Regions from separate parts of the Homo sapiens genome. Here region 1 is linked to region 2. The links come from fine-mapping of genetic effects on gene expression. Tissue or cell type: whole blood. Region 2 holds a variant in brackets; the other region holds the start of a gene. All regions are shown on one strand. Distances are between the middles of the regions.

What was found. PIP is the estimated chance that this variant, and not a neighbour inherited with it, causes the effect.
Region 1: ZNF385C starts here. The variant in region 2 is fine-mapped to the expression of ZNF385C in whole blood (TOPMed, PIP above 0.99).

The regions. Positions count from the first base shown.
Region 1 is chr17:42,097,469-42,100,089 of GRCh38, reverse strand. ZNF385C (zinc finger protein 385C) reads left to right here and starts at 1,617. Exons shown (of 9, transcript NM_001392013.1): 1 at 1,617-1,680.
Region 2 is chr17:42,062,343-42,065,094 of GRCh38, reverse strand. ZNF385C (zinc finger protein 385C) reads left to right here. Exons shown (of 9, transcript NM_001392013.1): 2 at 2,037-2,288. The coding sequence starts at 2,039. Among named protein-coding and RNA genes, the nearest start is that of C17orf113, 13 kb to the right of the region's middle. RefSeq lists silencers at 976-1,075, 1,070-1,364 and an enhancer at 2,459-2,752. The variant C/T (reference allele first, on the strand shown) is at 1,642.

The sequences.
Region 1 (2,621 bases), 35 kb before region 2:
ATTACAAAAATTAGCCTCACATAGTGGCAGGCCCCTGTAATTCCAGCTACTCAGGAGGCTGAGGCAGGAGACTCACTTGAACCTGGGAGACGGAGTTTGCAGTGAGCCGAGATCATGCCACTGCACTGCAGCCTGGACAACACAGTAAGACTCCATCTCAAAAATAAAAAAATAAAAGAAGTTTTAAACACTCCTCTTTAATAGCCCTCCTAAGCCTTATTCATAAAGGGTATCAACAGTCTAAACTTGAGGCCCATCAAGAGTGTGAGGGCTTCCTGCTCCCCCTACCCCATAATAGCTTCCAACCCCGATATTCCCCTCTCCACCTTCCCTTAACCCTCAGATCATCTCCCCTAGGCTGGGGAAAGGCTGAGATCCAGGGTTTGAGGGGTGGGCTCAGGTAGGCACGGGGGTGGGGAAAATTACAAAGGCCTAAATTTTCTGTTCTCATTTTAACAAGAAAGAAAAAGAAAGGCAAGATCTAGGTTGCTTCATCAGGGAAAGGGCTATTTCTGTAGTACAAGGCCCAGCAGGCAGGAGACACCTTCAAGAGGAAGGGAGGGGGCTAGGGCAGAGATTTGAGAGCAGGATGGCAGTCCTTCCTGCCGTCCAACCTCCTTCCCTCCTGCTACATTCTTGGTTCTGTCCCCAGGTAGATGAGAAATGCACCCTGTCTTCTCCCAGCATTTTCTTTTTTCTGTAGGCCTCTTGTCTGATTGAGGGCTGAAATTCCCGTTCCCGTCTTTTTGGCTACCATCTCCCATAGACAGTGTACTTCTCTTTCCCAAGGCCCCCCTCTTCCTCCTCTCAAAGTGTCCTTGGCCCTGGATCCAGGAGTCTCCTTCCTCCTCCCTCCTGTCCCATCTCCAGCTGCCTTCCCGGGGGGAGAGTTGCCCATCCGCTCCCCACTTTGCCTTCAGTTAGTATACTGCCTGCCAGCAACGTGCCTTTTACAGGTCAATAAAATTAGCGACTGGGGGCAGAGGGAGGGGGCAGGGGCTCAGGGGTGCTAAGCTCAAAGGCCTTGAATGTGGCTAGACTCACGGAGTCAGGACGCCTGTCATTCCAGGGCTAAACAGTGACAGCTGGGGGACCTGGGCTGGCGCTGGGGGCGGAGGAGGGGCTGTGTGGCAGGGAGGGAGATGGGCTGAGGATAAAGATGGTCTGGTTGCCTAATGGCCCCCTCAGCGGCCTAAACCCCTACACAGCTGAGCCCTGGAGAGGGCACCCTTACTTTAGAGGAGTGTCCCGTCTCACACCCAACCCTGCCAGGCCCGAAGAGCTCAGATGGAAGGGGACTCAGGCCAGGAGAGGTTTCTGAGCTTTCTTCTTCGTGTGAGGGGTCTTTATATGAAGTCACCCTCTCCAGGGCATCTGGGCGAGGCTGTCTGAAGCGGGGAATTCCCACCCACCCCCCGCACCCCCTGGAGTCCTAACTTCCCAGCCTTCAGAACTCGAGCTCCGGGCCCTCCCTGTGGCTCAGATGCTCTCCCGGGACTTCCCACCTGAATGAGCCCGCGCACCCCACCGGCGGGGCCTCGAGGGAGGGGCCGGCCCGGCTCCCCCTCCCAGCCCCGCCCCTGCCCCGCCGGGCCCCGCCCCTCCCAGCCAGCCCCACACGCAGCGTTCCCAGCCAGGCGAGAGCAGGTGGCCGCGGCGGGCTCCGTCTCTGCCCCGCAGGTAAGACGGCGACGCGGGCTAGTCCACGCCGAGGACCTCGAGGGCAGCGCGGGAGAACGAGGCAGCCTCTTCCACCTGTCCGGTCCTCTCGCCTCAAAATTGGGGGACCCCAAGGGACAGTGAGGATATCCCTATCTCGGCTCTGAGCGCCGACGTTGGGCATCTGCTGGGCGGGACTGAACTCTGGGGCAGTTAGAGGGTCCTGGCTGGTTATCCCTGATGCCAGGCGGGCTCCAAAGGATGGAAAAGAAAGAGCCGGGCATTAGACACGCAGCTTTCTGGAGTGGGGCAGGTTGGGGATGGTGAGGACGGGGGTCCGGAGTAAGGAACCTCGTTGACTGAGAGTGCGCCATGCCTCATCCAAGGGCAGCCTCTTCCCCACCCTAGGGGGTGATGGCTTGACCCAAACTGGGCTTCTGTTCCGTGGGCTAATGAGGTAAAAGCCGCCGCATAGCTGAGCTGGGGCCTGGGATTTTCTAATGAGCCCCAGGGCACCTGCATCATTTATTTACATCTGGGTACAAGGGGGTGAGCAGGGGATTACCCCGATGGCCTAGGGAACCCGGAAAGTCTGGGAACTCAGTAGATCTTTTCTGTGTCTGTGTCACAGAGCCGGCTGGGGAAGGTGATCGCAGATGTGGCCTTATTGCAGACAGGGGAGCATTTGCACCCTCAGTGTTGGGATTTGGGCTGTAGGAAAGGGGTCCTGCCTCCCAGGACCTCGAGGAAGCCTTCCTGGAGGAGGAGGACCTGGGCTGACAGCTTGAATGTGATGCTCAGAGCTCTGAGCCACTAAGGAGAGGCAGCCTTTGGGTCTTGGTGCTGGGTTGAAGTAGAGCAGAGGACCCTGGATTATAGAACAAAGGGAAGTCAGGACATTGCTGTCTGGGTCCAGCTGGGACCCCAGGGACCTTCCTGAGATCATCGCAAGCCTTTGGACA
Region 2 (2,752 bases):
AGATCACTTGAGGCCAGGAGTCCGAGACCAGCCTGGCCAACATGGCACTACCCCATCTCTACTAAAAAAAAATACAAAAATCAGCTGGGCATGGTGGCAGATGCTTGTAATCCCAGCTACTCAGGAGGCTGAGGCAGGAGAATTGCTTGAATCCGGGAGGCAGAGGTTGCAGTGAGCTGAGATTGTGCCACTGCACTCCAACCTGGGTGATAGAGTAAGACTCTGTCTCCCACTGGGTGCAGTGGCTCATGGCTGTAATCCCAGCACTGTGGGAGGCCAAGGTGGGAGGATCACCTGAGGTCAGGAGGTCGAGACCAGCCTGGACAACATGGCAAAACACTGTCTCTACTAAAAATACAAAAATTAGCTGGGCGTGGTGGCGGACACCTGTAGTCCCAGCTACTTGAGAGGCTGAGTTGAGGCAGGAGAATCACTTGAACCCAGGAGGTGGAGGTTGCAGTGAGCCGAGATCACACCAATGCACTACAGCCTGGGTGACACAGCGAGACTCCATCTTGAAAAAAATAAAGACACCCATCATATGAATTAGGGCCCACCGGTATGACCTCATTAACTTAATTACCTCTTTGAAGACCCCATCTCCAAATAGAGTTACTTTCTAAGGTACTGGGGGTTATTACTTCAACATATGCATTTTGAGGGGACACACTTCAGTCCATAACAGGAGAGATGGGCTCAGTATGACTCACCCAGGCCCTAGCCTTGGGGTTGCCCCAGCCTGAGGGAGGGACACAGATCTTGCTCTCAGGAAGCCCCTGTCTGAAGCAGAGGCAGGAAGCATGCACGCAGATTTCCGAGAGAAGGCAAAATTCACTGAGCAGCCCCAGAATAGAAATGGTTAGAGGCAGACAAGTCAGGCAGGGCAAGTTTCAGAGAAGTGACTTGGAAAGGAAAGACTGTCTATGGGAGATGGGGGCCTGGAGGGGCCACTTGAGGGTCCCGAAGAGACAGAAAGTGTGTGTGTGTGTGTGTGTGTGTGTGTGTGTGTGTGTGTGTGTGTATGTGCGTGTGCGCGCGTTGGGGGACAGGGCGGGGGCAGGGGCGCTGTCTTCAGCCGACCCAGGCAGCAAGGCTCAGGTCTCTACCGAAACCACCAACTGTTGCCTCGGCCTCGGTTGCCAAGACAGCAGGGGGCATCTGGAGCCACGTGGAGCAGGGGTTGGGATGGCTTCACACACTGTCACCATTTGTGAATGTCACCCTGCTGGGTGCAGGGCACAGGAAGGTTGTGTTTTTGGCTGGCGGCTGCTGCGTCTCCAGTAAGCGCCACATGCCTGGCTGTCACAGGATTGCCAGCGCTTGCTGTAGAGCTGAGAACAGGACTCTCGCTTCCTCAAATGTGACTCAGCTGGCCTTGCCACTGCCTCTCCCTCAGTGACCACCTTTCCTCCAAGACCCCAGTCCGCCTCTCTGAGATATGTTCTGCGGCCCTCCGAGTCCCCAGGTGTCTTGGCCTCCCCGTGTGTAGACATGTCGGACACCCTTCCAGAAAGTCCCAAGTTTTTTTGTTTTTGTTTTTGTTTTTTGTTTGTTTTTTCTTTCTGAAATGGAGTTTTGCTCTTGTTGTGGAAGCTGGAGTGCAATGACACCCGATCTTGGCTCACTGCAACCTCCGCCTCC[C/T]GGGTTCAAGTGATTCTCCTGCATCAGCCTCCTGAGTAGCTGGGATTACAGGCATGCGCCACCATGCCCAGCAAATTATGTATTTTTAGTAGAGACAGGGTTTCACCATGTTGGTCAGGCTGGTGTCAAACTCCTGACCTCAGGTGACCTGCCCGCCTCGGCCTCCCAAAGTGCTGGGATTACAGGCGTGAGCCACAGCCAAGAGTCCCAAGTTTTAATGCTGCTTTGCTTGAAATAGACCCCATTATGCGCCCTTCCACCATCCTCGGGCTGGGGCATTTCAGAGGGATATAGAGGATACAGAGCCCCGTGTCTCCCGGTCTTGAGCCCCTCCTGCTCTCTCTAAGAATTCGCAACCATTTGGCGTTCATTCATCTCCCTCTCTATCCACTCAGATATGAAGCGGCCACTGAGCCCACCCCCACCGGCTGAGAAGGAGACCCCCATATCTGGAGCTGCTGAGTGCCTCCCTCGGCCCCCAGAACCACCTAAGCCCAAGCGAGAAAGAAAGCGGCCATCGTACACGCTCTGTGATGTCTGCAACATCCAGCTGAACTCGGCGGCCCAGGCCCAGGTGCACTGTGGGGGGCGGGCCCACCAGAGGCGGCTTCGGCAGCTCAGCTTGGGGAAGAGCCCCTCAGGGCCAGGTCAGTGTAGAGGGGACGCTGCTCCCACAAATTTGGTTTGGGGAGTATCTCTGTCTGGGCCCCTCTGAGGGGCTCTGGGTCTGTGGCCTCCCTCCATGGGGGTCTTTGCGTCTGGGGTGCCCTCAATGGGGTCTTAGGGTCTGAAGCCTCCCCGATGCCAGCAAGTTTTATTCTGCATCTGGACAACCCTTCTGTAGGACCTCTCGGAATCTGTGGGTCCTTAGGCCGCCTCTTGGGTCTTTGTTTCTAGGGAACTCTCCCTGTGGGATCTTTTGGGATCAGGACTCCTAAGCAGCACTTCTCCAGCCTGGAGCCTCCTGGTAGCCACAGGCTTTCAGACAAGGGCCTCATCTGCGGGGTGGGGGTCCCAGGCTCCAGCTCAGGTCTGTGGTCTCTGAAGGCCAAGGTCAGCAAGGTACACAGCACTCCAACCCAGGGACAAGGGGGAGGCCCCTCTTCCTTTG